2 separate regions of the Homo sapiens genome follow, and region 1 is linked to region 2. The links come from fine-mapping of genetic effects on gene expression. A gene starts in region 2. The other region holds a variant in brackets. All regions are shown on one strand. Distances are from middle to middle.

The links. PIP is the estimated chance that this variant, and not a neighbour inherited with it, causes the effect.
Region 1: its variant is the best candidate, but not a certain one, in a credible set for the expression of ITLN1 in whole blood (INTERVAL, PIP 0.66).

What each region holds. Positions count from the first base shown.
Region 1 is chr1:160,854,267-160,859,650 of GRCh38, forward strand. The region is part of intron 1 of CD244 (CD244 molecule); the gene reads right to left. Among named protein-coding and RNA genes, the nearest start is that of CD244, 5.9 kb to the right of the region's middle. RefSeq lists an enhancer at 1,122-1,171. The variant GA/G (reference allele first, on the strand shown) is at 2,631.
Region 2 is chr1:160,882,365-160,887,748 of GRCh38, forward strand. ITLN1 (intelectin 1) reads right to left here and starts at 2,816. Exons shown (of 8, transcript NM_017625.3): 1 at 2,697-2,816; 2 at 2,456-2,519; 3 at 1,064-1,162. The coding sequence starts at 2,513.

The DNA of each region.
Region 1 (5,384 bases), 28 kb before region 2:
TAATCCACCAGTAGATCAGAATGTAGAGCGCTATGTAGAAGAAGGTTGTTCTCTGCTATTATAAAACTGAATAGGAATCACACAGGAAAATGGTTAAGTTATTGTCTAGACTTCTTTGTTTGTTTGTTTGTTTTAAGACAGAGTCTCGCTCTGTCACCCAGACTGGTGTGCAGTGGCATGATCTCGGCTCACTGCAATCTCTGCCTCCCAGGTTCAAGTGATTCTCCTGTCTCAGCCTCATGAGTAACTGGGACTACAGGTGCCTGCCACCACCCCCAGCTATTCTTTTTTTTTTTTTTGTATTTTTAGTAGAGACAGGGTTTCGCCATATTGGCCAGGCTGGTCTTGAACTCCTGACCTCAAGTAATCCACCCGTCTCAGCCTCCCAAAGTTCTGGCGTGAGCCACCACTCCCAGCCATAGACTTCTAAATACTTAAAGAATGAAATGTGTGATCTACAGTCCTCATGCTATACTGCCTTTGGGGTCTTTTTAAAAATTAGGCCGTTATATTTTATTTTTATGTAATATTATATTAGTTTATACATTTAAGACTGGTTTGTCTGCAAATAAAAAGGAGCTAGAGAGAACACCAGGTGTTGTTTTGATTTTTCAACTGGAAGGAAACTGTACTAAAGGTAGGAAGCCCACAGAAAAGGAGCAGCTGAAGAAAGATGAGGGATGTCTTCACAGACAGCAGGTCCCAGGTGACTTCTGAAAGAAGCTCTGGTGCCCTGAGCACACAGGGGAGTATTGGTCAAGGACAGGGCAAGAACACTCTTGCCCTCAGCAGAGGCAAATGTGGCCATTTACAGGAGTAGATGAAGTACATTGACACTGGAGACTTGTTGGCAAGGTTGGTGGAATCCCTAACTTGTGCTTCTGTTTTCTTAAAGAAGGAGGTTGTTGGTTTGTGGAGGCTGAGATAGTGGAACAGGGCCTTGAAAGAGATGACGAAGGTGTGGAATTCTCCCACCTTTTGGGGAACAGGAGAAGCTGTGGGCCAGAAATGAGGATTCCCAGGACACTGAGAGTCCAGCTGGGGTTGGAGATTACGAATCTGTAGCTGCTCTTTGTTGCTGAATTTTCTCCTGCAGCCCCCAACAGTCCAGTGTGGGAAGGAGGAAGATGGTTGGAATGAGTTTCCATGGACGGCCTGGAAGGGGTGGGTGCCAGGGCAGGGGTGCAAAGCAGATACGGTGAAAAGGCAAGTAGACAAGTCACTATGTCCAGGGTATTGTGACTGATACAGAAAGACCTCAGTTTCTGTCCCAGAGGGGTACACACACCAGATAGGGGAGATGAAATGCTACTACGAAAACATAACTTCAACACAAGTTCTCACACATTTAGTGAGGCATAGAGGAGGACCCAACAAGTGAAAATTGTTTAGAGGAAAGAGGCCACAGTCCAGGAAGGCCCCCGGGCCCCTGCCACTGCTGTTGCTACTGCTCAGCAGCTTTGGGGGCCACCTTCCTGTGGTTAAGAACGGATGAGGTGAACTAGTAACTCTGAAAGGGAGGGCAGAGGGCAGATGATTAACTCCACTGCAGCCTCAGGAAGAACAGAGGATGGTCAAGGAGACAAGTACAGAGGATGGTGAAGGAGACAATCTGATCCAGCAGTGAGTCCCGCTCAGCCCTGAGCCCATGTGCAGAGCTCTGAGTCAGCTCAGCTTCCTCCAACCTGGACCTGCCAGTCGGAGGAAGGTGTGGGGCCTGAGCACCTGGGAGAAGGAGCACGGGAGGGTCTCAGAGCAAGTGGAATTTCCACCAGCCAACAAATAGATGTTAAGGTTTTCTCAGCTAGGGCTTGTGCTACCAGGCTTGGGGTGAAGGCATCAAAAGATGTACCTGCTGGGGACTAAGTGAACAGAGTCCAGTGAGATTCCAAAAGTACTGGGGCAATCCAGCTCTAGTCAGGGCAAAATCATAAGATAGATAAAGTATCCTATAGGGCCCACATCCCATTTCTTTCTTCCTCTCTATTTAGCTTCATACTGACCATATTAACTCTCTTCCTCAGGCAATGCAACTCCCTTACCTCTGTCAAAACTCACCTAGCCCAAGTCCCACTCTTTGCATCAGTTAACCAAATCATCTCATATGTGATATTGTTTCTCCATGATAACAAGTGCATCTCCCTTTCCTGTTTCCCATCCAAACCCCATGCAACCCTGGCTTTTCTGAGCTGTTTCCTCTGCTTCAATTGTCCTTCTACTTTGTACCTACCTCCTAAACTCTTATTTATTCTTCAAGGCCAGTTCCCCAGTGTTCCTACCTAGAAGGAATCTTCATCTTCTTAGCTCCTTTTTTATTCTAAATGTATCTTGCCTGTTAATGACACATAGCATTTCCATCTTCCCTTATAGTTGTAATTATACATACCCATTTTCCTCTGTCTGAAAGATTCTTAAGGGTAGAATAGACATCTGTTTCATCTTTGTTTCCCCCACAAAACCTTGCATAGTTCTTGGAGCATAATAAGGGCTGGGGAAAGAGTTTATGAATAAGACCTCAAAAGCACAGGCAACAGAAGCAAAATAAACAAATGGTATTACAGCAAACTAAAAAAAAATCATGTACAGTAAAGGAAACAATTCACAGAGTGAAAAGGCAACCAATAGAATAG[GA/G]AAAAAAATTGCAAACTATGAATCCTACAGGCAACTAATATGCAGAATAGACAAGAAATTCAAACGTCACAACAGCAAAATGAACAACCCAAGCAAGGGCTTCATGAATCCGTTTAAATTAATTAATTCAACAATGCATCTCACATAACTCCTAAAAATGACTCTATTGTCAGAATTTCATGCAGGATACCAGAGAAATCACAGAGCTGTAATTCCCTTGCCTTTGGCCTCTTGCCAAGCTCCACATTTCCACAATTTAATTTTCCATCTGCAGACCTTCAGAACCAAAAGCCAGTGGCCCCAAAGCAGCATGGAACTCTCATGCACTATTTGGTTCAACCACTTTGGAAAACAGTTTGACAGCATCTGCTAGAGTTACGTACACATACTCCATGGTTCTGCCCCTAGAGATATACCCAACAGACATGCATGCACAAAAGGCTCATCACAGCATTATTATAATAGCAAAAACAAAATTGAAAGCAACCCAAAGGTTCATCAATAATAGAAAAGGTGAATAAACTATGATATAGTCATGCGATAAAATACTATACAGCCATGAAAATGATCTGCTACAAATAATAACATACATAAATCTCATAAGATGTTGAGCAAAAGTAGTCAGACACAAGAGTGCATACCGTTTGATTCCATATATACGGACAAAACAAATCTGTGATGTTAGAAGTCAGAATTGTGGCTATATTTATGGAAGACAGAGGAAGTAATGAATGGGAGAGAACATGTGGTAGACACAAGAGTGTGTTCATTTAACAATAGCTCATTGAGATGTACATTTGTAATTTTGTGTACTTTTCTGTATGTTGCACTTCAATAAGAGAGGTTTGTCTGTGAAGACAATGGCCTGGCTGGGCACAGTGGCCCACATCTGTAATCCCAGTAATTTGGGAGGCCAAGGCAAGAGGATTGCTTGAGCCCAGGAGGTCAAGACCAGCCCAGGCAGCATAGCAAAACCCCATCTCTACACAAAAATTAAAAATAAGCCAAGTGTGGTGATACATGCCTGTAGTCCCAGCTACTAAGGAGGCTGAGGCAGAAGGATTGCTTGAGCCCAGGAGGTCAAGGCTACAGTGAGCTGTGATCACATCACTGCACTCCAGCCTGGGTGATAGAGCAAGACCCTGTCTCACAAAAAAATAAAAATAAATAAATAAAAATAAAAAATTAAAAAAAAAAACAAGACATGCCCTGTCTCTCCTTGAAGTGATTTCAGTGGATTCCTTTCTGGATGGTGCTGTAGCCCAGGGTACATTGAATTCCAATCTCTTTTCTGTGTCCAGCTACTTTGCCATTCACCCTTTGTTGGAGGGGAGGTGCAATGAGGAAGAGAAGAGCAAAAACGACTCCAGCCCTTCTACAGCTTGCCTGGATCCCAGCCAAAGCAGTCGCAGTTAGACACCACTCCCTGAGAAGTGACAGTTCCAACACAATCTACGCAAACAGCTGGCAACCCTTGGAGCTAATCTATAAGGTGTCACCTGTGCCCTTTTATTGTCCAGCAGATCTCAACTCAGGCTGTAAAGCATCTGGGGATTCATAGCCTCCAGCCTGTGTGTCCTTTGGGGTTTCCTCAGAACGGACAACTGAAACCTGAATTTTGGGTCTAAAATGAATTTTAGGGCCCAGGCCTATTCCCTGGGCAATGATTTGAAGATCCCTCCTTCCCAATATGTCTAACCCAAAAAACATCCCAGGCTGCCCGTTAAGATGCCTGAAAATAATTCACTTATTCACTCAACAAACATGTTTTGAACACCTACTGCATTGGCACTGCACCAGGCACTAATCACAACTGTAGTAACAGTGACTCAGGCAATCTAGCGCAAGCTCTCTGAACAAACGGGCCCTGGACTTACTTGCCACTGAATCCTCAATAGCCCTGGTTCAGAGCTATTCAAAATATATCCAGAGAAAGAATGGGAACAGAGAGGGGGCTGCTATTGTGAAAATAAGTATCTACTGAGGGTTGACTTGTGGCAGGTACTGCTCTAGATGTTGAGGAGACAACGGTGAGCAAAACAGACAAAAGCCCTGGCCTCAAGGATCTTACAGTCTAGGGGGCTGAAGAGGAGACTGGGAGACAGAAAATGAAAAACATAAGTAAACAGGATGGAACATAAATGGAGATGAGGACTATGGAGAAAAATTAAGTGGAGAGAGAGCTAAGAGTTTGCAGAATGGCAGGCTGACATTTTCAGTGGGGAAGGCATCACTGAAAAGGAGGTATTTGAGCAAAACTCTGAGGGGTTGAGGGAAGAGGCCATGTAGCCAGCAAAGGAGCAGCATCCCAGGCAGAGAAAACTGTGGATACAACAGAGAGCGAGGTCCAGGACCAGCAGGCAACATGGCTGAAATGCTGTGAGCAAGAGGAGAGACAAAGAGGAGTGGGTCTTGGACGCCAGGTCACGCACCATTGTAAAATGCATGGCTTTTACTCTGCATGAAAGAAGAAGTCTTTGGAAGAATTTCGCAATGCTCAAGAGTTATATGCACATCTTACATAAATAGTACTCCTGTTAAATTATTCAGTAAACAAAGTGGTTTTTTAAATTTCACTGTCATCATATGACTCCTGATGGGATGCGCTGAAAAAGACACAGTATCACTTTTGTGGTATTCCTGTCAAAAATGCATATAATATCTGCTGTCAATGGGCACAGAAAAAAATTTTTTTAAAGAAAAAATAATTTTAAAAATGCATATGATGGCTAGGCATGATGGCTCACACTTGT
Region 2 (5,384 bases):
CAGAAGATCATGCTCCTGTAACTGAGGCAGAACATAGAATTGTATAAAATCCCAGTGACATTTTTCATAAAGTTAAACATGGAATTATTGTATGACCCAGCAATTCCACTGCAGGTCTATCCCCAAAAGAATTGAAAACAGGGCCTCAAGCTGATGCTTTTACACCAGTGTTCATTGCAGCATTAGTCACAAGAGCCAAATAGAAGAAACAATTCAAATATTCACCAACAGGTGAATGAATAAACAAAACATGGTGTGTGTGCATATATGTATCTGCAGTGGATAAAAGGGAATGAAATATCCATGCTACAGCATGGACAAACCCTCAAAACACTGTGCTAAGTGAAATAAGCCAGACACCAAAGGACAAATACCATATGACTCCAATTACATGAGGTAACTACACTAGGCAAATTCATGGAGATAGAAAGTAAAATGCAGCTACCAGAGACTGAGGGAAGAGAGTTATTGCTTAATAACTCCATGTTATTTTTTGTTTTGTTTTGTTTTTGTTTTTGTTTTTGAGATGGAGTCTCACTCTGTTGCCCAGGCTGGAGTGAAGTGGCACTATCTTGGCCCACTGCAACCTCTGCCTCCTGAGTTCAAGCGATCCTCCCACCTCAGCCTCCCAAGTAGCTGGAATTACAAACATGTACTCCACACCCAATTGATTTTTGTATTTTAGTAGAGACAGGGCCCCACCATGTTAGCCAAGCTGGTTTCAAACTCCTGGCCTCAACTGATCCACCCCTCTCAGCCTCCTAAAGTGCTGGGATTACAGGCCTGAGCCACCGCACCCGGCCCCTCCATGTTATTAAGTACAGAGTTTCTGTTTGGGGCACTGAAAAAGTTCTGCATATGGATAGCTGTGATGGTTGCACAACCTTGAAGGTAATTAATGCCACTGAATTGCACACTTAATGTTGCTTAAAATGGCAAATCTTATGTAAATTATAATATACATATACTTTACCATAATTTTTTAACTAAAAGACAAAAAGACTCCCAGAAGACACAATCCTGATACCCTGACTGAGCTCTGTTTGAATGTTTCATCACTCACCAAATGCACTAGGACATTCGTCTTTGATTTCCTTGCAGCTTCTGGGCAGAGATGGAGACGAAGAACAGGTCCATTCCTTGAAGTAAGTATTAGCCTCATCTAGGGAATACACAGGGTTTATTCTCATTCCCGGTTTGACACAAAACCTACCCTCTCCTATCACTAGTCCCACGCTCATTCCACCACTGTAGCAGAACCTCGCTGCCCGGGTGGTAAGGCCTGAGACAGCCAGTGTCATATCCACTCAGCCCATCAGTGTCACATCCACTCAGCCCATCGGCATCATATCCACTCAGCCCATCCGACCTGACAGCCAGCACAGGCTTAAAGTCTGCCTCCCGCCACAAGACCTGTCCTTGTGCTGGGTCCTGCCCTAAGCACTGAGTAATCAAAGACATTAAAGTTCCCCAGCAAGAGCTTGCCTCTAGAGGGAATTGCTAACAAGTCAACAGAAAATTGTATTGACAAGAATAAATGGTAGAAGAAAGGCAAACTCAAGAGAACAAAAGAAAGACTCTGAGGTAACAGTGGAGAATGGAAACGCCAGACAGTAAGCGGGGCAGTTGCCTGGGAGAAGAAGGCAAGACGGGTTGTCTCATGTCTTAGTCACAGAAGACCTTCCAGTCCAGGTGACATCTTAGCTTATTCTGAGAGAATAAACATGATTTATCAGTAGGAAGCCAATCCAAGGCAGGGAAAACAGCATATCCAAAGGCCTAGAGAAAAAAAAAAAAATACAGCGTAGTCCAGCTGTAGAACTACAAGCTGCTTAATATGGCTGAAACATGGGGTGTGAAGTAGGGAGTGGTGAGACTAATCTCTACTCCAAAAAGTCTGCAAACTATTCGAACAGTCTAGGGGAAAGCTGTGAGGTCAGAGGTGACTGACCTCAGTTTCCTCATACCTAAAACACAGTTAATAAACAGTGCTTTTGCAAAGATGAAGTAAGAAGATATTTCGAAACAGCCTTTTCTTTAAAAAAAAAATTTTTAGACGTGAAGAAAAATATAAATTTTAAAATGTCATTGTTATTCTTGTTGTAGAGAGGAAAACTGTGGAGAGAACATTCTCCAGGCACAAAGCAGACCATGTAGTTCCCATGGAAATCCCACAGCCAAGGCCACAGGAGTGGGCAGTGGCTGGAAGGTGACACAGTTCTTGCCACAGCCCCCTCAGGGCCACACAAAAGCACAGAGCCTGGACCCAGGACATGCCTCAAGCAATACCTTCACTGCCACAGGCCAGATTCCGCCAGAGACCAGAAATCGGCACTCAGTCTACATGCAAGCCAGCCGCTGTGCATCTCAAGGACATGCTCTGTGTCCTGGGAGAGACCAGGATCCCGGAAGTCATCCAGCTGAAGGAACTGCTGTCCCTAGCAGCGTGACTCACCTGTACTCCATCCTCTGGTGGTCGCTATGAGAAACAGCAGGAAGCTGAGTTGGTTCATTGTAATCTAAAGAAAGCAAGATGAAGGTCACCATCTTGGCCATCATTTTTCTCTACATCCCTGCCCCACCCCTGTCCAGTCTTACAAAGACTCCAAAACCCCTTGCCTTTTGTTTAAACTTCACACATCTCTGAGACCAAAAGCAGACCTAAGCTGAAAACAGGATTCCCCCAACTCACAGACCTTGTCTGAGTCTCAGCTGCACTTTCCTTGGGTACAGAGAGCTCCTTCACTCCCTCCCTCCACTGCGCCCTGGAGCTCAACAGAGTGCAGCTTTCTCCAAAAACGCTCCTGATGTGGAATGAGGTGCAGAAAGCTTTATGGAGGAAGCCCAGTGGGGCCAACCAAGGTTTCCAGCCTCACCCTCCCCTGGCACAATGCCCAGTGCAGGGGAGGCTTCTGGTTATCTCGGGGAGGTTATTTATACAGTGGAATTAACAGGTTCTAAAGAAAAAACCAATCCTAAGAATCACCTGCTAGCGTTGTTCCTGGATCTGGGGGTTTCATGGACCTGTGTCAAGTAGGAAGTAGACGAAGAGATTAACAAGAGTTGGTGTTGGTTTTGGGTTTTTGTGCCTTTCTTTCTTGCAAAATAAAAACTTTCTCTAAATTAAGCATCTGTTGGCTTGGCACATTGGCTCAAATCCCAATACTTTGGGAGGCCAAGGCAGAAGGATCACTTGAACTCAGGAGTTTGAGACCAGCCTGGGCAACATAGGGCAACCTCTTCTCTACTAAAAATAAAAGTAAAAAAATTAGCATGGCATGGTGGTACTTGCCTATAGTTTCAGGTGGGGCTGAGGCAAGGCAAAAGGGTAACTTAAGTCCCAGAGATAGAGGATTCAGTGAAATATGACCGTGCCACTGTACTTCAGCTTAGGTATCTCAAAATAAATAAATAAATGAAATTAATCATTGGCCATAATTATCAATTCATAGAAATAGAAAAAGGAAATTTTAACAAAATGGGAAAGTGATCATTTCTGAATAAATTGGTAAAAAGGAATGGAGGGGAAAGAGATACAAAACACACAAAAAAATACGAATAGAAAAGTTTTAAAAAATATATAAATCTTTAGTTTGAATAATTTAGTTTCACACAAAGACTCACTACTTTGTCTTTAATTTTGTCATTTTGCCACAAACGAGGGAAAATTTACTACAGGATTCATTTGAAACTGAATCAATACGAAACCTCTCTGCTGCTTCGAACCTCCTGTCTTATTCCTGCTCCTATGTCATGAAGTTCTCAAATGCTACCCTGCAGCTGTAATAGAATTACTCAGTTCTTCCCCAGTGATATCATACATTTAATACATAATGTCATTATAGCATTAATAATACTGCAACCTTTTCTTACAAAGATTGTGAATATCTTTTTTGTTAAGCTAATATTTCCTATTTGTTGGTTCAAAGTACTGATTTGCAAAAAATACTCACATATTGATAGAAGAAAATAAAATAGCACCCAAGAAGAAAAACTGCAAAAAAAAGTTATACTTTTGTAAATTTAAAATCTATTAGAAGCTATTTGCTCTGTGTATCTGGAAAATAATTAATTAAATAAAATTAAATGTATTAGAAACTAAATTAACTCATCAGTATAGGTAACAAAATGAACATACCCAGCTTTCATATTTACAAACAACAACCTCTTAGAAATAGAGGTCTCAGCCAGGCGCTGCGGCTTACACCTGTAATCCCAGCACTTTGAGGGGACGAGGGTGGCCAATCACTTGAGGTCAGGAGTTCAAGACCAGCCTGATCAACACGGTGAAACCGTGTCTCTACTAAAAATATAAAATTAGCTGGGCACGGTGTCAGGCGCCTGTAATCCAAGCTACTCGGGAGGCTGAGGCAGGAGAATTGCTTGAACCCGGGAGGCAGAGGTTGCAGTGAGCTGAGATCGCACCATTGCACTCCAGCCTGGGCAACAAGAGTGAAATTCCATCTCAAAAAAAAAAAAAAAAAATAGAGGTCTCTAAGTTTACAGTTCACAATAGTAAATACATGTATATAAAGTTAACACCAAGGGCCCAAGATCTAGAGAAAAAAATTAAACATCCCCTCAGTTGTTCATTACTGTGTGTAACTAACCACCTGAAAACTTTATGGCTTAATAAAACAGTAACATATTTGCAAAAATAAAAAAAGAAAATATACACTTATACTACTTTCTTTAGTTGATTCTAAGACACTTTTTTTGTATTTTGACATCTTTAATATCATTATGCATCTCATCCTTAATGGTACATGATGCCATCTAATAGACTGGGAAAACAGTACATCCATTTTAAGGACATTACCCCTTCTAACCATCATCATCCAATCAGTGATTGCGTCCCATTGATTCTACCCCTACTTCCTCTTGAATCTGTTCCCCACACAACTTCCTCCAAACCCCACTGCCCTGGACATTTATTTAGTTCAGTCTGGTTCCTTGTAGCTGTAACTAATAGAAACCCCATCTCAAAGTGGCTTTTCTAAAAAGTAAATCTATTACCTCATGAAATAGAAAATCGAGAGAGAGGGCAAGATCCAGGCTTGCTTGACAGCAGCTTCTCTTTATTTTATTTTATTTATTTATTTATGTTGAGACAGGGTCTCACTCTGTTGCCCAGGCTGGATGGAGTGCAGTGACACAATCTCAGCTTACTGCAGCCTCAACCTTCCAGGCTCAGGTGATCCTCCCACCTCAGCCTCCCAAGCACCTGGGAATACAGGCACACACCACCACACCCTGCTAACTTTTGTATTTTTGGTAGAAACGAGTTCTCACCATGTTGGCCAGGCTGGTCTCGAACTCCTAGGCACAAACAATCCTGCCTCAGCCTCCCAAAGTGCTGAGAGTATAGGTACGTATGTGACAGT